Linked DNA regions of Homo sapiens. The protein of the gene in region 5 purifies or fractionates together with the protein of the main gene of each other region. This does not show direct contact. Each region holds a gene or a part of one and is shown on either strand. Other genes may lie near its edges.

Region 1 (4,037 bases), on a different chromosome or scaffold from region 5:
ATTTGTTCTTTGTTGCTCTCATCGCCACCTGCATGTTATTTTTTCATGTATTGTTTTATCACCTCCCTCAACCAGAAAAATAAGACCAATCAGAGCCAAGACTGTATTTCTTCACTGTTCTACCCATGGTGCCAAAAGCAGTGCCTGGAGCATAAAGTATGAATTAAAAAATTTGTTGAAGGGCTGGACTCTTCCCTTGTTCCTAGGTGAAGTAACAAATACCCAAGGGCTTATACAAATGTAGAGCCGGTATCCTAGAAGAAAATAGCTCTGAAAACTGTACTTATAATTTGTACTAACAGAAATGTTATCACTAAGTAAGATAATGTGAGAAATGGGGGAAAAAATCATAAGAAAACAAGAGCAGATGAAAAGACAAAAGGCTTAGATGAAAAGGAGCAATGGTCAGAAAGGATTTTGGATAAGGAAACGAAAATGATGGCAGAATTAAGGCATCCTCTGGGGACAGTGGAAAACAGAATTAACAAGGCAGAAATTGATAGTGGTTTCTTCATTCATTTATTCAACCACTGCATATTGAGGGCTGCCTCTGCATACACATCAGGCAGAGAACAAGGCAAAAGAACTGTATCTTCATAAACATGCAGTGAGATGAACAAGCCCACGTGCTGCTTATAGGAGTCGAAGCCAGCAGTGCCTTTCTGGAAACCACTTTGGCAATATATACTATGAGTGTCTTAAAATGCATAATCTCTGAGCAACTATTTCATGTCTATGAAAATAATATAAAGAAAGAGATGATCATAGAGTATCACAGAATTTACATATTTATATATAACATGCACATATTAAAATGTTTGATCTTAGAAACAAGTGAAAAATACACAGTAATGGAATTATCAACTAAATATTACCAAGGCCAAACAATGGAGCACTATGCAACCATGAAAAAAGATAAAAATAATTTTAAGAACATGGAAAAATTCACAATCTATACTTATAAATAATTATATGCAGAATGAATTCAAACACAGAGTTCTTGTCTTTGGAATTTGGGATTCAGAATTATATTCTTTATGCTTTGGGGCATTTGACAAGTTATCCTCAAGGAACACATTATTACTTTAATAATAATCAGAATAAGTACTAAATAAAATTTTTATCTCCCACATTAGCATTTCTTACATATTTTGAACCTATTCCAATACAGTTCTCAGTTCCTAGAATCCTCCATTCCACTTACATTATTATAAAAGATTCCAGTAAGTTTAAATTTTTGCTCAAAGCATGCTAAAGTTTTGTATCCTTGCATTCCCGCTCCAGATTTTTTAAACAAGAGACTACATTTTTTGCTTTATAGATATTCTAAGCTCACTGTTGTCTTCTCCTTTTATCATGGGGTTAGTAAAAGATTTTATTCAAATGATCCAACAATTCATCACTCTCACCATACAAATATATTGTATCCAAAAACATAACTTTATCAAAAATAAACTTCCTTATTAAAATGTTTCAGTAAACACATCCAGACTGTGGCATAGTTTCGAAGGTATACACCATGTCAAAATTTGTCAAAGTATACACTTTAAATATATGCAGTTTATTACATCAATTATACCTTAGTAAAGCTACTGGATAAAACATAACATCAAAAAAGGCCACATACTGAAATATGGCTAAAAGGCCTGAGGTCAGACACATACACCTAAGAAAAAGACGACCCACTCGTTAAATGCATCAGCAAGTTTATTTACAAATGCAATTGAACAGAAAGGCTCACCAGTTTCTGAAGAAGACTTCTAGTATACAAACCATGGTTATTTTTCATTAATGAAAATAAGCAGCTTTCTATTGGGAATTACTTAGCAACATTTCTGGTAAAGAAAATAGAGCTCCCTTCATCAAGCAAATAAATGGTACATTAACTGCATTTTTAAAAATCAGAATAATAGGTAGAAGGAAGGATACAGAAAGCACATTTGGGGATAGATTTTAATGAAATTTTCCATATGGTTCTGCATTAATTTAGAATACATTACAATAAACAGAGCAAATGCAATTATGTATTTATATTAACTATTTCAAATAATGTTTAAGAACCTTTTTTTAAAAAACAATAAAATACCCTCTTCAAAACACCACTAACTAGAAAGTCAAACTAGATCATTATCTGCCTCAAAAATATTCGTAGGTTCTTATTTTTTCCCTTGTGCTCTCAAGATGCTGAATTCAACAGGTAAATACTGCACTTTTCCCCACACACAATTACCTTATAAATAAACAACAAAAATACTGGTTCTACCAAGACTACAATGCTTCTATGTAATCTAAAGAGGCAAAAAAAGTTATTCTTTTTTTTAAAAAAAAAGCAAAAAAGACATACAACACATATTTATAGATCTACATGAGCAGCAACCACCTCTTCTTCTATCTGCAACAGTGCTTTCGTATGGAGGCTTACATCACATGGCGGTTGGCCGTCCAGCTGATCGGGCAAGGAGAAAAGAAAGAAAAGTGCTTAGATTCAGAAACGTGAATATTGCCATCTGGGATACATAGCAGTCATCACTCAGAAAGTGGCCCAATGAGGTAGAAAGAGTAACCTGTCACTCACTCTTAGGATAAAGCTAGGCAAGTCTCAGTGTCTCGTCTCTGGAATTCTTTATTTGTAAAAATGGAGTAAAAATGAACTGCTCACAATAGAAATAAATTACACTCAACTCTCTATTATTTGTTTTGGAGGAGAGAAAAGGCATGGGCAATTTTACAATGGTGATTCCAGAAATCATTTCTATTTGGCTTTGGAATTTGATGAGAGAGAGAAAAACACACACACATACACACACCCCCCACCAGTACATGCCCAGCCTTGACTTTCTCCAACCTCAGTGTCAGCATCCAGGAAAGGACTGGACAGCTGCAGCAGGAAGGCTCAGAACCCACCGACAGATAAAAGAGAGTTGACTGGGCTTAAACCATTTCCAAAGCACTCTTCACATAGGGGCCATATAAATACCTCAGAGTTCAAAAGCAAATGATTTTGCTGATACCACTTGTAACACCCTTTCACAATAAGGAAGAAACACATGTTACCAGCATCAAGGTTTAAAATATAAAACAGCAGTAATACTTGTCTTGCTGTAGCTATACACAACACACAACCTAGTTATGCTAGCCTACCTTTTATAACACACAAACACATGCTTAGATGCAAAGTAGCATTTGAAGTTTTTTGAAAAACTCATTTTTTCCAAAAATGACACTGAAACACCATAGTTAATACTTTCCTTTTAAAATTATATATTGACATATATTAACATAAAGCATAAACTGACTTATTTTGTATTACATGGAACAATATTTTTTAAAGTTGGTCATATTCTAAATCACATAATCAAAGCCCATTGTTAAATAATAGAAGTTGATGAGGGACCAATCTTTAGTCAAGAAACAAATCCTACATAGAAGATTCATTTAAGTGTTTTGGTTTGTTTGTATTCTTGAGTCATTAAAGGTCTCTGCGGACTCTGGGCAGATAACACAAGACACCATCCTGACTTTTGGACACTGTTCCTCTCCATTCCTTGGCCCCACAACCCACTCCTGTGTAGCTGGAACCCTGAGCAGTGACCCATTCACTATACACACTCTTTGAAGGGAACACACTACAATTCTTGAAACCTGGAATCCTATGGCAGTGAACTTGGAGGGGAGCTCGCTGCAGGTTCAGGGAAATGCATGGGAACCCGTGGCCTCCTTAAAAGGCAAGAAATTTTCTCTCTGATTTGCTCTCTTACATTTGAATCTGAGATAGCAGTCGTTGCAGTACAGTTGGTGGTTTCTGATCCTGACTTCAGCTCCTGAGGAAGAGCCTCCGAGGTCACACTCACAGGCAACACACTGGGGAACAAAAAAAAAAGAACATCTACAATCAGTCAGCTCAAGAAAGCTTGGGGCACTCCTGGGGGTGGGGGGGAAATGAGCAGAATGCTACTTCTAAGCTCTTAGATACATTTCAGCAAAGAAAAAAAAAGGCCGAAAGATGATTAGTAGATTCAAATCAAGACCGCCAGATA
Region 2 (2,407 bases), on a different chromosome or scaffold from region 5:
GTCGGCTTTCCATTGAATTTCTGTACAACTCAGGGAACCCTGTTCTGGGCCAGGCACCCACCCAAAGGTTGGAGAGCCCTAGTGGAGCACACAGCAGCCTCTTCCCTGCTACACAATGTGGCAGGAGGCTAGGAGCAGCCACCCCAGAACTAGCCCTATGAATTCCACCAACCAGAGCACTCTGTCTGTAAATGGGTAACTCGTCCAAGCCAGCTGTGCCCTTGGGACTGTGTGGATGGCATGCAGTGACCTGAAGGCTCAGGAGGCCTTGGGGTGTGAATTGCAATAGCACAAGGGCATTTCGCAAGCTGCAGGGAGGCCTCCAGCATTCACAGCGAGATGGGCCCACCAAGTCACCTTTCCCCTCATGTGTCCAACCAGTTAGACCTTACCTAATCCATCCTGAAACCTGGGCACCCACTGCCAGTGTGTCATGGAAAATGCTGGGTTGACTGCTGCTGTACTCAGCAGAGCAGATTTTACCTCTCTACAGTTTCCACCTCTCAGACTCACCAGCCTTCTGCTTTGGGGCTCTCCACCCTTAGCTGCTCCTCCCAACCTTCCTAACCATGGCAGTCACTCCAGCCAGCTGACTGGGGTTTGCGTCCTGTTTCCGCCACCCGCCACCAGAGAGCCCAGGCCAGTATTCCTGCACTCGGAGCCTCAGCCTTGCACTTGTGAAATGCGTGATGGTGGTTAGCTCTCAGTGTCACATTTGGCCCCACATGAAATAATGTAGCTGGTGCCTGGCACATGGTGAGCACCCACTAGTACTAACAGTATTCATTCACTCATTCATTTGTTCAGGCATTTATTAAGCCCTTGCTGCCTGCCAGATGCTGGGCCAGGTGCCAAGGAAGGAAGAGCAAGAGTGGTGTCCACAGGGAGGGGCCAGACCGAAGCAATCAATCACCCATTGCCTTCATTAATTATGGTTGTGCTAAGCACTTAGGGCACGTGGACTCAGATGCCTCCTACTCCACAAGGCCAGCCTCTGAGCCTCTGAGAGGATGGGGTCCCTTGTCATGTCCTGCTCTGAATCAGACCCTTGTCTGCAGAATTCCAGCCTTGGGACAAAGCTGACTCAAGGTTCTCGAGGTAGGGGTAGCGGGGGTCGGTGTTGGGAGGCAGGAGGATCTGCTGCTTTGAGACCCTGAGGCTGGCCCTCTGACTGGTTCTTTGTAGACAGTGGACTTTTTACAAGAACAAATGAGGTCTCTGCATCTGCCTGGCCCCAGTGATTTGTTCAGGACCCGGGCCCTGACCTTCACCAGGCCTTGAAGCCGGTGGGTGCGTGGAACTCTCTGCAGAGTCACTCCCATGCTCCTGTACCTCCTTGATGTCCCTTCCTCCCTCCTCCACACCTCCACGGCCCCTCCAGGGCTCAGGCACTGAAGCCACTAGGAGCTTGCATTCCCTGGAAGAGGAGGAGATACCAGACTTTTGCTGGCCACCCCTTTCTGTGCAGTCAGTGCTTAGGAAGAGCTAGACCAAACTAGACCACCAACCTCCTCAGATCCCTTCAACAGACCTTGTTTTAGAAACCGAGCCTCAGCCCCACTGGCCCCTATACTCAGCCCAGGGAGAACGTAGGACACAGAATCCCCCCACCTCTGTGTCCATCTGTCCCTTCACCTCCATCTCTCACAAGTCACAACAAACTCTCCCCATCCCGTTCCCCAAGGTGGGAACTTCCCAGCTGCCCTGGCAGCCCCTGCAAAGAGGGCCCACATCCAGGGACAAACTTGTCCCACGAGGCTGCTGGGAGTTCCAAGAGGGGTTTCTCAGGAACTAAAAAACCTCTTTTTAAAATTGTGGTTTGAAGTGAGCGGGGAGGTGGAAAAAGAGTTTACAATGATTTTTTTCTTTTTTTTTTTTTACCTCCCCTGACGGTCTACAGAAAACCTCTGTGCTTTTATTTTTGCTCATTCGAGTGGCTCTGACCTGCTCTATAATTACGTTACTTTCTACCTACTGAGCCACGGCATTTCCAGCTCTGCTACCTCTCACGGCTTCCTCGCTGGTCCCTGTGACGCTGTCACTCAAGGGCTTTCAAGTCAGCGATGTAGAAATCAAAAAGAAAAGGGAAATGGTCGGAGACACAGTGAGAATAAATGCTCCTGCTTTTCTCTCTTTTTTCCCCTTTCCCTTTTTACTTTATTCATTTAATCTCCCTGAGTGAGACTGTAAGGCTTAATGAAGGGTTGGACAGATTATTAGAGGCTGTTGATTTGGAGGGGGAGGGAAGAAAGAGCCAGAGAGAGAAAGAGAGAAGATAATTTGACATTTACCCCAACTGATCTAAACTGACTCAGTTGTATTTATGGCTTATAAAGTGTTTAGAAAGATTGAAGCGGGGAGAAACTCAACATGGCAAGGAGAAGGGAAAGAAAAAAATAATATTGAC
Region 3 (3,049 bases), on a different chromosome or scaffold from region 5:
ACCATGGCTGTCCTGGTTTACGCTTGTTGTTCAAGCTTATTTATCAACAGCGTTTCCCCCCATTATCAAAAGTGTCCTGGCTTGGAAGATAAATGACATGGCTTACCAGCTATAGGGACCAGGGGCTGCTGCCCACCCTCTGGTGACAGGAAAAGCCTTGGTTTTTCCAGGGAAAATGAAGAGAACAGGTCAGCCTAGGGCTCTCAGGTGTAGCTTCTCAGCCTATGTCCTCTTGTTTGCCCCATCCAGACTGCTGCCCCCACTGCTGCAGATTGTGTGCAAGGGCCTGGAGGACCCCTCGCAAGTTGTACGCAATGCTGCGCTGTTTGCCCTGGGCCAGTTCTCAGAAAACCTACAGGTGAACCAGGCTGAATGTGGGAGCCACCACTTGAATGTCCCCTTCCCCTCATCTTTCATCTCTTCAAGCATCCCTGCTGCCATCAGCACTCTTGTGTGTGCCCGGCAGGTGAACCTGACTCAGGCCCTGCTTGCTCCCTCCCCCAGCCCCATATCAGCAGCTATTCAAGGGAGGTAATGCCACTGCTCCTCGCCTACTTGAAGTCGGTGCCTCTTGGACACACACACCACCTAGCCAAGGCCTGCTATGCCCTGGAGAATTTTGTGGAGAACCTAGGTAGTGATGGCAGTGGGGAGCTTGGGGAAGGGGGATGAGGCGGCGGCTTTGGCTGAATGTACAGGATGTGCATCTCCCTGCATTGCTGCCTGTGGTAGGGGAAAGGGTGTGATGGTGCCAAAAAAAGGTTTCCGCCTGGAGGGAGGTGGGCGTGCAGGTAGCAGACCTGGGTTGGTTGGTAGAGGAGCATCCTTTCCCACAGGGCCCAAGGTGCAGCCCTACCTTCCGGAGCTTATGGAATGCATGCTGCAGCTTCTGAGGAACCCCAGCAGTCCCCGGGCCAAGGAGCTGGCTGTGAGCGCCCTGGGAGCCATTGGTGAGGAGAGAGGCAGGAGGCAGGGATGTGGGGTTCACCCAAAGGCCCTGTGGCTGGTGGTCCCTGCCCTCTCCAGCTCTGATTCTGTCCTTCCATCCTGCAGCTACGGCTGCCCAGGCCTCGCTGCTGCCCTACTTCCCTGCCATCATGGAGCACCTGCGGGAATTCCTGTTAACAGGCCGTGAGGACCTTCAGCCTGTGCAGATCCAGAGCCTGGGTGAGTGAGAGGTTCCCAGGTGGGGCTCCCAGTGCCAGCAAAGGGCTGGTGCTCACCTGGTGTTGACAGATTGCCCCCACAGGAGCACGGATGTCTTCCTTCTCATCAAAGGGGTGTGCTTCATGCTGTACCAAGGGGTGGGGCGGGATTTCTGAATCCCTCCCAGCCACCACCTTTGGTCCCGTAGCCCACCTCCACCTCCTGGTGCTAATGGAGCCCTTGCCCCCACAGAGACACTGGGGGTGCTGGCACGAGCAGTGGGGGAGCCCATGAGGCCGCTGGCTGAGGAATGCTGCCAGCTGGGTCTGGGCCTCTGCGACCAGGTAGACGACCCTGACTTGCGGCGCTGCACGTGAGTGACCCCTCACCCTGCCTCTGCCCTTGTCCCCTCCCCTCCTGTCTTCCCACTGGACCCACTGGAATCCCCACCCCAGACTCCAGTCGTCTGGTTTGGACCATAGCCAGGTGTTCCCGGGCTCCCCCATCCTGCCTGGTGGTAGCAGGCAGGACCTTACAGCTTCTTCTGCCTGCTTTGACCAGGTACAGCCTATTTGCAGCCTTATCGGGTCTGATGGGTGAGGGCCTGGCGCCCCACTTGGAACAGATCACCACGCTCATGCTGCTGTCACTGCGTTCCACCGAGGGCATTGTGGTGAGCAAAGGGTGGGTGGGCTGGGCCAGGCCTGCCCTGCAATGGGATTTATCTCCTGGGCCCAGCTGAGCCAAAGTCCTTGCCGTGCCTCCGCTCCAGCCTCAGTATGACGGGAGCAGCTCCTTCCTTCTGTTTGACGATGAGAGTGATGGGGAAGAAGAGGAGGAGCTCATGGATGAGGATGTGGAAGAAGAGGATGACTCAGAGATCTCAGGGTGCGGAGGGGTGCTCTTCTGATCAGGAATCTAGACTTTGGCTTTAGACAAGGGCCTAGTGCTGGATCTGCTCCTCTTGGTGCCTGATCACCACTGCCTCCCCTTCTTACTCTAGGTACAGCGTGGAGAATGCCTTCTTCGATGAGAAGGAAGACACCTGTGCTGCCGTGGGGGAGATCTCTGTGAACACCAGGTGAGCATTCGCCCTTCCCTGGCACTGAAAACCCTGCCTGGGGGCCCCTTACCCACGGCTGTGTCTCTCTCTGTAGTGTGGCCTTCCTTCCATACATGGAAAGTGTCTTTGAAGAAGTATTTAAACTGCTGGAGGTGAGCGGGCCGGCGGGTGGAGTGGGTGGGGTTCTCAGGCTGGGGGCCCTGTGTTCACGGTGCACATAGCAGACATATCCCGCCCCTCCTCATCCTGCAGTGCCCTCACCTGAATGTGCGGAAGGCAGCCCATGAGGCTCTGGGTCAGTTTTGCTGTGCACTGCACAAGGCCTGTCAAAGCTGCCCCTCGGAACCCAACACTGCTGGTGAGGAGAGGCTGGGCCAGGCTGGGGGTTCTTGGGGAGGGGCAGGGCCTGACTGGTGCTTCAGCCAATAATGTCCCCAGCTTTGCAGGCTGCCCTGGCCCGAGTCGTGCCATCCTACATGCAGGCAGTGAACAGGGAGCGGGAACGCCAGGTGGTGATGGCCGTGCTGGAGGCCCTGACAGGGGTGCTCCGCAGCTGTGGGACCCTCACACTGAAGCCCCCTGGGCGCCTCGCTGAGCTCTGTGGCGTGCTCAAGGCTGTGCTGCAGAGGAAGGTGAGCAGGGCAGGTGGGCTTCGGGAAGGAGAGGTGCTGGGCCTCGGTTGGGGACTGGCTACAAGTCCACCCCCTACCCCCATGAAAAGAGAAGGGGCGTGAAAGCTCCGCTAAGTTGAGCTACTTCTTGTAGACAGCCTGTCAGGATACTGACGAGGAGGAGGAAGAGGAAGATGATGATCAGGTGAGAGCCAGGGATAAAAACGGG
Region 4 (3,500 bases), on a different chromosome or scaffold from region 5:
ACAATTTTCACCTTATGTGCTGACTCATCCTGTATAAAGATGCAACTACTATTCTACCTTTTTGTGTCCTGTTTTACTTCTATGGTTAGAAAAAAAGCAACAAATCTACTTTTCTAAACAAGTATTTAATATGCTTGCACAGAAAGACAGGAATAATAATATTTGGAGTAATGCATAATTTTCCAAAACCTGCCCTTCCTGTATCTCCTGTCTTCGTGAGAGCACCATTACAACTCTTAGGCTTCCAAGCCAGAAACCTGTGGGTCTTTAATTTACTCTTTTCTCTCAAGCCCTAATATCCTATCTCCTAATACCTTTCATATTTGTCCCCTTTTCCTTTTACCACTGGATTAATTCAGGCTCTAGACTACTCTAATAGTCTCCAAATTGATATTTTTCTTCTCTTGCTGAGCTTGCAATCCATTTTCTGGAATATTTCTAAATCAGATTTCATCATGGGGGTTCCCAGCCTCTCTATGTTACAATCTTCAAAGGCTCTCCTTACCTCAAAATAAAATCCAAACCCTTTCATGATCTAGTCCTTTCTACCATCTACCTTTGTGGACACAGATATTTATCAATTCTCTATATACTTCCTGAGCTCAAGTATGCTAAGCACTTTTCAGGCACCCATGTGTCAGAACTCAGGCTCATTCTTTAAAAGACTTGGCTTATGTTCCCACCTCCTCAGTGAATTCTTATTTGTCTCTGTCTGTTCTCTATGCTTTCAGAGCACCTTCATCATCACACTGACTTACATAGCTGTCTAATTTATTCAGCAGTGAGTACCTCTGAAAGAAGATATTTTAATTCCACATAAGTTCATCAACATACAATCACTGTTTTAACCAATCAGTCAAATGAATAAAGCTAGAAGACATGAGGACTAATGAAGTCAATCGCTTTCACTAAAGTCACATAGTTCTTTTATTACTGGCTGCATCGCTGGCACAGACCAAGTCAGAGTTCCTTAACAGCACGGACAACAGAACTTTGAACAATGATAAAATTTTTGCATATCTGTGCTGAAGGACCAGTCAGAGAGTTCCTTAATAGCACTGACAACAGAACTTTGAGTAATGACAAAATTTTTGCATATGTGTGCTGACCCACAGTTGCCATCAGCAACACATGGCTTTTGAGTACCCACCTGAACTGTGCTCAAAAGGAACCAAGTTCTAAGTTTTATGAATTTTATTTAAAGGTCAAATGTGGTTGCTGTGCTGTACTGGACAGCACAGCTATAGACAATCTGCACTAGAGATCCAAAAACAACTGAAACCACCAACTTGAGAATAAATATCGTAGGTGAAAATGGTACAAATTGTGAATAGAGATGGTCTCAAAACCTTTAATTAAAAAAAGTGTAGTACTGAAAATGTAGTTTTATAGCCTGTTTATCAATATTTACAAGCTGAAATATTTTCCATTACCTTTCCACTGGTTTGGTTAAAATGGGTGCTTATAAGACAGCTTTGAAGATGTTTACCAGCACATATTTGTGTTATCTTGATTCACTGCTATCCTTTCCTTTTCAGTCCACTGAAAACTGAATTCTAGATGTACTAATATGATTTAAGGGTATGTGAAGAAAATGGGAATGGAGAAGGAGGCACAAAGAAGCACAGAAAAACAAATATGCTGATTAAAATAACAGATGTCAGGGCAAGAGAATATAAGATAATGTCTGAAATGAATATAGGGACCAGAAAGAAAAAAGGCTAAAACTCAAGAAATCAAGTAAAAATGAATGTTAATTTGCTACTAGAGACTCACTAAGAACGAATGTCTAAAATAAGTTCTATTTTAGAAAGTATTATAAAAAAGACATTGTCTAATAGAGCATAAAAACGCTCTGAACAGAAAATCAGATCATAGAATAATGAAAATGAACTAGTAAGAACATAACAGTCTAAGTACTTTTAAAATATTACTTCGCTTCACCCCCAGAAGGAGTTATTTCCTCTACCAATGAAGAAATCCAAATAAATAACCTGCCTAGTCACACAACTAGTTAATGATGGGCCAGCATTCAAATTCAAGTTCTTTTTACTGTACTTATGAAAATATACAGATTGCTGTAATGCACTCATTGGATTTCTAGCTGAATTCTACATTATTTTAAACTTAAAAATAGATTATCTTAATATTAGTATTTGAGTATCATTTTAGTTTTACTCCAATGCTTGAGATCAGAATGCATAATTTAGTGTATATTAATTTAAGCCTCCATTCCTGAAAACTACAGTAATTCCCTAAAATTTCTCTGCTTCCCCATTTTTCTGCTTCAAACTCTTCTGGCACAAGGGTATCAGAAGAATATTCTGACGATGTCAAAACCATCATTCCCATTCACCTAAAAGATAAATTCCAAACTTCTTACCCTAAAACTCAAGAAGTTTTATAATATAGCTCCAATATACCTTTCTAATCTTAGCTCCAGCAATTAGCCATTCAGAATCTCCATTAGAGTCAAAACAGCTCTACATAAAGTTCCTCAAATATGGCTTGTGCTTCTCGTCTCTCTTGCCCCACCTAAAATGCTTTTCCCTATTCAAAAGCTTTACTCCTCCCACAATCTCAATTTTGTGAAACCTTCCTGGGCTCATCTATCTTCTGGCCCAATGATCTCTCCCTTCTGTGGACTGCAGTACTGATATAATAAAGCAAACATATGGCATTCATTATCTATTGGCTTGTGAATTCTGTATCCTAACCATTGTTTATCTAATTGACACGTGTTTTGTTTCTTCAACTAGGAAAGTTGAGAGTGGAATCTATGTCTTATACATTTTAAAATTTGCTAAGTTTTAGCAGTGCTTTAGAGGTGGCGTAGATAACTGCAGTCTCAGTTTCTAAGAACAAATACAACCACTTCCTCACCAACCCCAGTACATTCTAAGGCCTAGAACTTAAATTTACAAAAACACTGCTTGCTTCTAAAGTCTAACACATTAGCTAAGTAACTCTTAAGAATTGCGAATACTATATATTCACAATACTCTCAACAAATAAAACATGCCTAAAATAATCATCAGCTTACCGACAATATGGGTTTCTTCGAGACGAATATCGAAGGGTAAGAAATCTATAGTATATAAAAGGTTGGAGCAAACTTCCTTGACCACTGAAATAAACAAATACAAGCGTGATAAATATACATTTCAATTCATGTGTATACTCTCAAAACTTAAAAGCAATTCAACTGGAGAATATGTGTATCTTCATTCATCAAATGGTCATAGTGAAATCTATCATGTCTAAATCCAAGTTATCCTTAAAAAAGGATATAAAAGAATGTACATGATTGGTAAAGAGTAAAATGTTGTTTAATTTTTTTATAAATGTATTCTTATCTGTATTACTTTTGAAATTTTTTAAAATACTAAATAAATCAGAAAATGTTAAATAATTCCGTAATTACTAATTGATGAAATCAAGTTGTAAAGCTTCATAAAATATGCAAATGAAAAGTGACTTATTTTATATATATAAAAAGA
Region 5 (3,500 bases):
AAGAGGGTGGGGCAGGGAAAGGGCGTGGCAAGAGGGCCACCCACCTCCGGTCCAGAGAGCCAGCCAGACCCTTACTTTCTCTTGCTGTGTGACCTTAGGCAAGGACATGCCACCACCGGCCTTAGTCTCCCTCTTTGTGAAGTAGGATGAAGATCCCCACCTGTGGAGCAGATGTGGGGCTGCATGGTTGGGTCAGGATGGAACAGGATGGGGAGGCCGGGCGTGGTGGCTTACCCCTGTAATCCCAGCACTTTGGGAGGCAAAGGTGGGAGGACTGCTTGAGTCCTGGAGTTTGGGCAACATAGCGAGACCACCCCCATCTCTACAAAATAATGTTAAAGTTAGCCAGGTGTAGTGGTGAGTGCCTGTGGTCCCACCTACTGGGGAGACTGAGGCAAGAGGATCCTTTGAGCCCAGGAGGTGGAGGCTGTAGAGAGCCATGCTTGGGCCACTTGCACTCCAGCCTGGGCAACAGAGCAAGACCCTATCTCTAAAAAAAAAATGGAATTGAGGATGTGTCCTCTGGGTGTGGGCTCTACCACCCACCAGCCTCCCTCTCCTGTGGGTGCTGCCTGCCACCCACCGCTGAGGTCCCTGCAGCATCAAGGTGCCCAAACGAAGACACTCTCCAGCTCTGAGCCAGGCACCCATACAGAGCCCGGCAGACGCCTCTGCTGCTGCAGTTCTTAGAATCCAGAGCGCGTGGGGAATGTGAATTTGTGCTGCTGGAGCCAAACATCCCACCTCCAGGTTTTAGCTGGAGGAATCCATGTGGATATGCAAAGCAATGTAGTTATAATGAATAGCAATTGTGGGCTGGGCGCAGTGGCTCATACCTGTAATCCCAGCACTTTGGGAGGCTGAGGTGGGTGGATCACCTGAGGTCAGGAGTTTGAGACCGGCCTGGCCAACATAATGAAACTCCGTCTCTACTAAAAATACAAAAAAATTAGCCGGGCATAGTGGCGGGTGCCTGTAATCCCAGCTACTCAGGAGGCTGAGGCAGGAGAATCACTTGAACCCAGGAGGCAGAGGTTTCAGTGAGGCGAGATCGTGCCATTGCACTCCAGCCCGGGAGACACAGCGAGACTCTCTTTCTCAAAAAAAGAATAGCAGCTTTGCTATAGCTTAGGGGAGCAAAACCCGAAAGCCACCTTAAGTTTCCCGAAGATAGAGATCCCTGGGGTCCTATTCTGAGACAGAGTCTTGCTCTGTCGCCCAGGCTGGAGTGCAGTGGCGGATCTCAGCTCACTGCAGCCTCCGCCTCCTGGGTTCAAGCAATTCTCCTGCGTCAGCCTCCCGAGCAGCTGGGATTACAGGCGCCCGGCACCACCCCCAGCTAATTTTTTTTTTTTTGAGACAGAGTCTCGCATTGTCGCCCAGGCTGGAGTGCAGTGGCGCGATCTTGGCTCACTGCAAGCTCCACCTCCCGGGTTCACGCCATTCTCCTGCCTCAGCCTCCCGAGTAGCAGGGACTACAGGCGCCCGCCACCGTGCCCGGCTAATTTTTTTTTTTTGTATTATTAATAGAGACGGGTTTCACCGTGTTAGGATGATCTCGATCTCCTGACCTCGTGATCCGCCTGCCTCGGCCTCCCAAAGTGCTGGGATTACAGGCATGAGCCACCTTGCCTGGTCCTTTTTTTTGTATTTTTAGTAGAGATGAGGTTTCACCATGTTGGCCAGGCTGGTCTCAAACTCCTGACCTCATGATCCGCCCGCCTCGGCCTCCCAAAGTGCTGGGATTACAGGTGTGGGCCACTGTGCCCGGCCAGTCCCATTCTACTTTTTAGGGACATGGAATCATGTAAAGATGCCATACAGAAAACAGTATGCAAATCCAGAGACAGAGGACATCTGTGCATGTTTCTTTCTTTCTTCCTTTTTTTTTTTTTTTTTTTTTTTGAGATGGATTCTTGCTCTGTCGCCCAGGCTGGAGTGCAGTGGTGCAATCTCAGCTCACTGCAACCTCTGCCTCCCAGGTTCAAGTGATTCTCCTGCCTCAGACTTCCAAGTAGCTGGGATTACAGGCATGCCCCACCATGCCCAGCTAATTTTTGTATTTTTAGTAGAGGCGGGGTTTCACCATGTTGGCAAGGCTGGTCTTGAACTCATGACCTCAGGTGATCCACCCGCCTCAGCTTCCCAAAGTGCTGGGATTACAGGCGTGAGCCGCCGTGGCAACCCGCATGCTTCTTATGTATAAGAAAAAAACAGCTAGAAAGTTGTGGGTTCACTGGCTGGGCACATGGTGGCTTGTGTCTGTAACCTCAGCACTTTGGGAGGCTGAGTTAGGAGGATCATGTGAGGCCGGGAGTTCAAGACCATCCTAGGCAACATAGCCAGACCCTGTCTGTACCAAATAGAAAAAAAAATTAACTTGATGTGGTGGTGTGTGCCTGTAGTCTCAGCTATTTGGGAGGCTGAGGTGGGAGGATCACTTGAGCCCAGGAAGTCGAGGCTACAGTGAGCTATGATTGTGCCACTGCACTCCAACCTGGGCAACAGAGCAAGACCCTGAATCAAAAAGAAAGAGATGTATTTGCCAACACAGGGGTGTTCTGCAGTGGGGTGGGAAGGGGACGTGTAGGACTTCATAGTTTCCTTTTTTTTGTTTTAGAGACAGGGCTTAAAAAAAAATTTTTTTTTTTTTTTTGAGGCGGAATTTCATTCTTGTTGCCCAGGCTGGAGTGATCTCGGCTCACTGCCATCTCCGCCTCCCAGGTTGAAGTGATTCTCCTGCCTCAGCCTCAGGCAATTTTGTATTTTTAGTAGAGACGGGGTGACTCCATGTTGGTCAGGCTGGTCTCAAACTCCCGACCTCGGGTGATCTGCCTGCCTTGGCCTCCCAAACTGCTGGGATTACAGGTGTGAGCCACTGTGCCTGGCCCCTTTTTTTTTTTTTTAAGTAGGGTCTTGCTAAGTTGTCCAGGCTGGTCTTGAACTCCTGGTCTCAAATGATCCTCCTGACTTGGCCTCCCAAAAGGCTGGGATTGCAGGAGATATGAGCCACCGCACCCGGCCCTTTTATAAGTTTTCTAAAGGAAAGGAACATGTACCATCGTGTTTTATTTTAATTTTTACATAGAAGCAGGAACAATAGCATGAACCCCCAGACACGGCCCCCCAAGATGCGCTGTTCCGCTGTGCTGCAGCCCCATTTGTCCTTTTCTATACCATTTTTGGTTGTATTTGAAGCAAATCCCTGACATCAGGGCATTTCATCCCAAAATACTTCCATCTGTGTTTCTAAAAAAACGAGGCCATTTTCTTATGTAACCACAACGTGATCAACAGTAATCAATGCTTAACATCTAATTCTGGGCCACGTTAAGACCCTCCTGATTGGCTCAAGAATGTCTTTTGTGCAGTTGGTTTCTTGATTCTTTTTGTTTTTTTTGAGACAGGGTCTCACTGTGTCACCCAGGCTGGAGTGCAGTGGTGCAATCACGGCTCACTGCAGCCTCAGCCTCCTGCCTCAGCGATCCTCCTGCCTCAGC
Region 6 (3,500 bases), on a different chromosome or scaffold from region 5:
ATTATAGTTCTCATAGCAAACTTTTGCTTTCTAAAATATTCTCGAGTTTGAACTTACAGTACTGTACTAACCCATGAAAAATCATGTTGTTCATGAATCACCTGAAGAAGCCATCTGTTGAGGTGGACTCCAGCAGCCAAAGAGAGCAGGCTTGTGTGTCCTGCTCCTCCCCGTCCATGGGTAAAGTGTTGTTAGGGAGTCTCATGCTTTAACACCCATTTTTTGTTTGTTTGGTTCTGTAGTTTTAAGTCATCTAGATTTCTAAACTCATATTAATAATTGGATGTTATGATTGTACTTTCTTACGCAGTTATGCTTTGTTAGTGGAAGAAAGTAGTAATGGTATTGAAAAGAACATCTGTGCAAGACAAAAAGATATGGAAACAGAAGTACAGGGAAAAGCTAATGATTATCTTCAGCAGCATAATAATTAATCTACAAAGTAATGATTCAGTCTTCCATCAGAGTGGCCACGGCAGCTGCAGAGATGGGAACTCTTTGTTCTCATTAAATTATCTTGTTAGGTCATTCCAGAACTCTCTCTGTGTGGTATTCTAAGGGCTTTCAGAGGGTCTTTCTGGGTCAGTTATTGAAGCTCTTTATGAGGCATCTGGACAATATATGGCAACTACATAGGACAAGGGTCAGCAAACTTCTGTAAAGGACCAGATAGTGAATATTTTCAGCCATACAGTCTCTGTTGCAAGTAGTCAGTTCTATTGTTGTAGCATGAAAACAGCCATAGACAGTATATGCAATATGAGTGTGGCTGTGCTCCAGTAAAACTTGACTTACAAAAACAGGCTGTGGGCTACAGTATTGTACTTTACCAATACTTGACATAGAAGAGGGGCATTAATGTGCCTGGAATGTGCCTTCCTAGTGAGACTTCATGAGGGGATTGTGGTATATAGGTTAAGGGTATGAACTAGCCCAACTGGGTTTAAATCCTGGTGCCGGCACTTATTAGCTGTGTAACCTTAGGCAAGCTACTTAACCTCGCTGTGCCTCAGTGTCCTCATGCTTCACATAAGGATAATTATAGTACCTCTGTCACAGGGTTATTATGAGGAATGAATAAATTAATATTTTTAAAGTATTTAGAACAGTACCTGGCACACAGTAAGTACAGTAAATAAAATGTGTTTAATAAATAATCTGAAAAATATGAATTTGATTACATAAAATAAAATTACTTTATTTAAAGATTGTGTCTCCTGCTAGGCACGGTGCCTCACGCCTATAATCCCAGCACTTCGGGAGGCCAAGGCTGGTGGATCACTTGAGCCCAGGAGTTCGAGACCAGCCTAGGCAACATGGCAAAAACCCTCTCTACAGAAAAATAGCTGGGCATGGTGGTGTGCACCTGTGGTCCCAGCTACTTGGGAGGCTGAGGTGGGAGGGTCGCTTGAGCCCAGGATGTGGAGGCTGCAGTGAGCTGAGATCATGCCACTGCACTCCAGCCTGGGCAACAGAGCAAGACCCTGCCAAGAGAAAAAAAAGACTGTGTCTTTTCACATTCCACCAATATACTGATAGCATCTGTCTCTCTGCATTCTCAATAGCATCAAATATTATTACAGTGGGGGAAAAACCTTTGATAATCTTGTTGGCAAAAATGCGTATTTTTTTGATTACTAGTGAGTTTATTTATTTATTTTTTTATTTTTCGAGATGGAGTCTTGCAGTGTCTCCCAGGTTGGATTGCAGTGGCGCAATCTCAGCTCACTGCAACCTCCATCTCCCGGGTTCAAGCGATTCTCCTGCCTCAGCCTTCTGAGTAGCTGGGACCACAGGCGCGTGCCACCACACCCGGCTAATTTTGTATTTTTAGTAGAGACAGGGTTTCACTGTGTTGGCCAGGCTGGTCTTGAACTCCTGACCTCATGATCCTCCCGCCTTGGCCTCCCAAAGTGCTGGGATTACAGGTGTGAGCCACTGCGACTGGCCAGTGAGTTTAAATATTTAATGAGTCTTGGCACTTTTTCCTTATTGAGCTCTATGAGCTTTTTCTGTAGAAGATATTAACTGTTGGAGCTTCATGTTCTCAGGTACCCTATCTTGAGTCTATAGTGAACCTTTTGAAGTTGAAAAGAGTATTTTTGCCTCAATTATAAAATCTGTATTGTTCCATAATCTTAATTAAGCTGATAAAACTTGTTTGTGCATCTTTGTGCTCATGTGGCAATAGATGGGGTTAGGGCTTGGTTTCAGTTTGCCTAGGGTTAAAGGAGGTTCACATCCTTTGTGTTACTGTCCAGTTTCCCCGCATGCAGTCAGGTTAGCTCTGTGAGGAGTGCCTGGTCATCTGTAATTCAGACATTAAGGAAGTACCTGGTGTGTGCTAGAAACAGAATGCAGAGTTCAGGCCAGGGTGAGGATTTCTGCCCTCAGGAAGATCACAGCCTTTTGACAAAAGAGGAGGCACCATTTGCCTAGTGGAAATCAGCTTCAACAAAAAAATCACCTGCTTTTCTCTACAAGTCCCCGGAAGAGATCAGTAGATAAAATCCAAATCCCACACCTGTCCTCCAGAGAGATGATTATTGTTAGTTACTGAGAAGGGAAATGGATGAAAGGCATATGTGGCACAGGGGTCACCGCAGGATGCAGAGGTCTTAGGGGGTGTGCCGTGAAAGGCCAGCTCTCTGTCAGAGGCTCTGCTCCTTTGTCGGAGCACGTGCCCTCAAGTCAGCTCCACTGCAGTGTGCGCTGGAACCTGAGAAGTTGCTGAGTAGCCGAGGAGTGGCTCCAAGGAGCCTGGAAAGCAGTCCTCCTTTGAGGACCATTCAAGGTGGAGTGTGACGTTTTGTCGATTCTTGAAAGGGAATTGGGAGGAAAGAGGAGGAATAAAGGGATGGGTGTAGGGCTGTGTGTACAGCATTTTATGTGTTTTCTGATTTATCTTCACAACTTTGAGACAAACTGTCACCCCCAGTTCACAGATGATGAAACAGATTCAGAGTGACAGAAGGACCAAGAGAGTATTCAAGATTGAACCCAAATCTGTCTCTCCCAAAGCCATGCTCTTCCAGGTCACACCTGTGCCTTGATCTGTCTTTATGTCAGGATCTGTGCAGTGGGGCATCTGGGTTTGAATGTTTTTTTAAGTACTATGATTGTTGGATAAATTGTCATATGAGATAGAAATAAGGCCATGCTGCAAATTTTGAAAATGTACAGCTTGATAAATGGGGGCAAACATGATCCAGGGTAAGAAGGGGCAATTTGGTGACTTCACAAAAGATACCATTTAATGAAAATTTACTAGTTTTTTGTTTTTCTGTCTCCCAAAACAGGACACTCCTGGGTTTATTGTGAACCGCCTCCTGGTTCCATACCTCATGGAAGCAATCAGGCTGTATGAACGAGGTATCCTTCTGACCCAGGCCAGGAGCAGCAGACCTCAGCTCCTGGCGCCACTGTCTGGAATTCTCAGTGTCTCTAGGAGGGGTCGGGCCGTGCACAATGGAGGAAGCAGTGTCTGTTTTCTAGCTTTG
Region 7 (3,362 bases), on a different chromosome or scaffold from region 5:
GGGGCGGGTACAGGCTGCTCGTTCAGGAACATTCTCTAAATTTGGGGCCCCAGAAGGGCCTGGACACGAACCTTTAGCAGGCCGCTGGGCTTGCCCAAAGAGGTGCTGTGGGAAGCCAAGGCCAGCCTGGCAGCCGGCCCTCTGCTCTGGCCCAGCGGGGCTGTTCTGGGGGCCTGCACCTGGCTCAGCTGTGTCCCGCTGGGGCCCTGTGCCTTTAGCTAAGGAGGTACATGCCCTGCTCCGGGGCGGCTTGAGTTTTTTCTTTTCCACCCAACCATTCTAGCTGCCCCCTCGTTCCTGGCCCACACATGGCATGGGGCAAACACAGCTCCACATGCCAAGGCCTCCAGCTGTGCAGGCCTAGGCAGCTCCTTGGCCGCCCAGGCGTCTCGACAGTGCAGCCGTGAGGGCGGCTGGATGCAGCAAGGGCTCGTGTTGGGGACACGAGGGCCAGTGTTACGTGTGGGGTGGAGGCGGGGCTGGAAATGTGTGTCCCCCACTGTTTCACCCCACTCATCTACTGCAGACCGACATCTCACGAGGGCCTGCGGGAAGTGGCTTTAGGTTTCTGTATGTCTGTGAATCTAGGAAATGATGAGAAAGCGGATAAAGCGGGGCCACCAGGAGCCAGGAGGCCCCTTCACCCCTGCCTCTGAGCTCTGCACAGGTCCCTCTGCGTGGACGGTCACTTCCTCCTCGCCCAGCTCCCTCCTCCTGTCCTTCACAGCACCACTGATGTCTGAAGTGAAGACCACCTCTTGTGTCCCGTGAGTCCCCAGGCCGGTGCTTGTGGCACCTAAAGAAGCTCCATGTCTATCTTAAGGGGAATGTTCTTTTTGATTAATCAGAGGTATTAACATGCCCCTAATGAGTCCATTTGCTAATTGTATTGTTTAGGGGTTGAGAAAACAAAATAAAGAGTTGATATGTCTGGGGTTGGGTGGCCGTGAAATGAGGGTAATGATGATGCCCCTTCCTTGGGAGATTAAATCAAACAATGCATTCCCCAGGCTTAGGCAATTGATAGTAGTTATTAAGTGGATGGCACTGGCCAGAATACAGGGAGATACACACTCACCCAGCAAAATGATAGCAAACCTCAAACAGAAACCACCAGGCACTGTATACGTGCACATGGCCACGGCTATTCATCTTTTAAAATAAATAACTCTCTGGTTAGGCCTCTCCAAGTCTGTGGTTCTGGGCTTGTGGGTGGAAAAGTGCTTGGCTGTCTGCTTTCCAGCCTCTGAAACTGCCCAGGAATTCTCTGAAAGCCCCTCTGTGGTGACTTCTCTGAAGGTGTTGTTTCTTCAGAGGACTGTCTGTAGGTGGGGACCGTGGGCCAGGCCCTGGGCTGGCTGAATGCCCCCTCAGGAAAGCTTTCAAGGTGGAATGACACATTTCTGGTCATCCACTTTGCTAGCCAACAGGGCAAGCTGGAAAACGAGATGGGTGAGGACGTAGGAGAGAGTGAGAGGGTGAGATAAAGCTTCTGCAGGCTACGTGTACCCGTGCACTGGGAGAGACACTAGGGACACAATGCCCCTTTTCTCCCCCAGTTAGAGCCCTGGCCAGAACATGCCGCTGTTTTCAGGAAGGAGGGAAGCCAAGGCCCCCTTGTTCCTCCTCAGGGCTGGCCTTCCACCCAGAGTATGTGGAAACAAATCTCGGCAACCCCTCTGACAAAGAAGTCACCTGGCCAGGCTGTGTCTCGTGTTCAGTATTTTATTCTTATAGATTCACTTTGCATTGAGAATGGCCCCTTCTGCAGATCCTCCTCTATGAGGCAGATATTTCCGGAAGAGCTAAGTCACAGATATTTGCAAGTGACTGGCTCTTTATGAGTTTGCTTTCAGTCTTGAAAGCACAGACCAAGGCAGCCTAGGGCACTAGGAGAAATGGGGATGGTGGAGACAAGAGCTCCATAGGAGACAAGAGGTGTGGGTTGCCTGAGCATGTATGGAATAAACTGGCCGGAGGAGCAAATCTAGCCTGCTGATGAGTTTTGATTTGCATGCACCAGGTGTTAACTCAATCAAATGTGAATGCCTGTGGTGTCTCTGGTCCTGTGCACGCCCTATTTCTCAGGCCCCCATGCCTGATATCTTTGGGTTAACTGATGGACCGTGATGGCCTCTGGGGGTAGCACCTTGCCCTTTAGACAGCCTGACTTCCATGCCCCTGTGTGGACACCAATGGGAAGGAGCCTGTGGAGGTGGCCTCCCCTCCTCCCCCTGCAGGGCTGGAACCCCTTCCCACCCACCTCACCTGGAACAGGTAGTCTCCAGGGGGCACGTCAGTGATGTCAACCCACTGGCAGTCGATGTCATGGCGGTACATGTCCCAGCAGCCCATGGTGATGCCCTGATCGCCGAAGTTGGCACACTCGTAATTCTTCTGGATGTCTGCGGGCAGGGTAGAGGAGAGCTCATCACCAGGGAACCATGGCCCCACTGCCGCACCCTCTTCCTGCTTCCAAGGCCCCTACCGCTGCTTCATCTGGGCTCGGCATCCCACCCCACTGTGTGGGCTGCTCATCTGTTCTCATTTCAGTAGAACCCCCCACTCAATTCCCTACCCACATCCTGCCTCTTCTCTCAGGCCAGGCTCAAGTTCCCCTTCCTCCATGAAGCCCTCCCTGACCACTCTGATCCACCCTGGCCTTTCTGTGACATCCTCAGCCTGGGGATAACTGCGTGTGTGTGGACCGAGGAAATCTCTGGTGCCTGTGGTTTAGCAAAACGTGGGGGGTCATACTGTCTGTCTCCTCTGGAGGATCGGCAATTAGAGTGTAGGCCCATGTCTCTCTGACACTTACATGTTATCTGCACATGGTAAGAGGTCAACACCTGTCTGCTGTGTGATTTCACGGCAAGTCAGTGGCGGGCCGCTTCAATGAATAACAAATTAAACACGCATTTACTGAGAAGCTGCCATGCCTGGACACTGCTGTAAACAGTGGGTCTAGCAAGAAGAACTGACATGTCTCCCCATGAAGAGCCCCCAGGGCTGCAGGTGCACTAACAGGTGATCACAGGGCAGGTGTGGTGACCTACCAGAAGTGTGAGCAGAGTGCCACACCTGCCGGGACGGGGGGGCGCTTCAGAGGAGGGCATTTGAGATATAATTGAAGGGTGACACCTGGTGTGGTAGGGACACTTGGCATTGGGACACCAGAAAAAAGGTTGGTGGCAGCCAGAGTGGGAGGGGCATACGCATCAGGGTCTAGGCTGCTAAGCCCAGATGGAGCAGGGTCCCCAGAGTCTGGATCTTGTCCAGGAGGCCCTGTGGACCGACCAGTGCCTGTCAGCACAGCTCTGGGGAATCCGGGTGCCCTTGGAACCAGGTCATGCCCATGCCCC

The links.
Region 1: the proteins of FSCN1 (region 5) and LMO7 purify together in Homo sapiens (affinity purification with mass spectrometry, with the first as the bait; one study listed by BioGRID). This does not show direct contact.
Region 2: the proteins of FSCN1 (region 5) and ASS1 fractionate together in Homo sapiens (co-fractionation; one large-scale study listed by BioGRID). This does not show direct contact.
Region 3: the proteins of FSCN1 (region 5) and IPO4 purify together in Homo sapiens (affinity purification with mass spectrometry, with the first as the bait; one study listed by BioGRID). This does not show direct contact.
Region 4: the proteins of FSCN1 (region 5) and TMEM33 purify together in Homo sapiens (affinity purification with mass spectrometry, with the first as the bait; one study listed by BioGRID). This does not show direct contact.
Region 6: the proteins of FSCN1 (region 5) and HADH purify together in Homo sapiens (affinity purification with mass spectrometry, with the first as the bait; one study listed by BioGRID). This does not show direct contact.
Region 7: the proteins of FSCN1 (region 5) and LOXL2 purify together in Homo sapiens (affinity purification with western blotting; one study listed by BioGRID). This does not show direct contact.

What each region holds. Positions count from the first base shown.
Region 1 is NC_000013.11:75,856,330-75,860,366, reverse strand, and holds the end of LMO7 (LIM domain only protein 7), read right to left. Parts: intron 3,862-4,037; coding exon 3,759-3,861; intron 2,447-3,758; coding exon 2,424-2,446; coding exon of another isoform or gene 2,354-2,423; 3' UTR 501-2,353; downstream 1-500.
Region 2 is NC_000009.12:130,496,961-130,499,367, reverse strand, and holds part of ASS1 (argininosuccinate synthase), read right to left. Parts: intron 1-2,407. UniProt on the Homo sapiens protein: One of the enzymes of the urea cycle, the metabolic pathway transforming neurotoxic amonia produced by protein catabolism into inocuous urea in the liver of ureotelic animals.
Region 3 is NC_000014.9:24,182,768-24,185,816, reverse strand, and holds part of IPO4 (importin-4), read left to right. Parts: intron 1-249; coding exon 250-358; intron 359-504; coding exon 505-634; intron 635-836; coding exon 837-950; intron 951-1,053; coding exon 1,054-1,167; intron 1,168-1,398; coding exon 1,399-1,519; intron 1,520-1,707; coding exon 1,708-1,819; intron 1,820-1,918; coding exon 1,919-2,034; intron 2,035-2,149; coding exon 2,150-2,227; intron 2,228-2,303; coding exon 2,304-2,361; intron 2,362-2,461; coding exon 2,462-2,567; intron 2,568-2,647; coding exon 2,648-2,841; intron 2,842-2,974; coding exon 2,975-3,025; intron 3,026-3,049. UniProt on the Homo sapiens protein: Nuclear transport receptor that mediates nuclear import of proteins, such as histones, RPS3A, TNP2 and VDR. Serves as receptor for nuclear localization signals (NLS) in cargo substrates.
Region 4 is NC_000004.12:41,948,929-41,952,428, reverse strand, and holds part of TMEM33 (transmembrane protein 33), read right to left. Parts: intron 3,128-3,500; coding exon 3,044-3,127; intron 1-3,043. UniProt on the Homo sapiens protein: Acts as a regulator of the tubular endoplasmic reticulum (ER) network by modulating intracellular calcium homeostasis. Mechanistically, stimulates PKD2 calcium-dependent activity. Suppresses the RTN3/4-induced formation of the ER tubules.
Region 5 is NC_000007.14:5,599,316-5,602,815, forward strand, and holds part of FSCN1 (fascin), read left to right. Parts: intron 1-3,500. UniProt on the Homo sapiens protein: Actin-binding protein that contains 2 major actin binding sites. Organizes filamentous actin into parallel bundles. Plays a role in the organization of actin filament bundles and the formation of microspikes, membrane ruffles, and stress fibers.
Region 6 is NC_000004.12:108,024,389-108,027,888, forward strand, and holds part of HADH (hydroxyacyl-coenzyme A dehydrogenase, mitochondrial isoform 2 precursor), read left to right. Parts: intron 1-3,299; coding exon 3,300-3,372; intron 3,373-3,500. UniProt on the Homo sapiens protein: Mitochondrial fatty acid beta-oxidation enzyme that catalyzes the third step of the beta-oxidation cycle for medium and short-chain 3-hydroxy fatty acyl-CoAs (C4 to C10).
Region 7 is NC_000008.11:23,299,759-23,303,120, forward strand, and holds part of LOXL2 (lysyl oxidase homolog 2 precursor), read right to left. Parts: intron 2,406-3,362; coding exon 2,269-2,405; intron 1-2,268. UniProt on the Homo sapiens protein: Mediates the post-translational oxidative deamination of lysine residues on target proteins leading to the formation of deaminated lysine (allysine).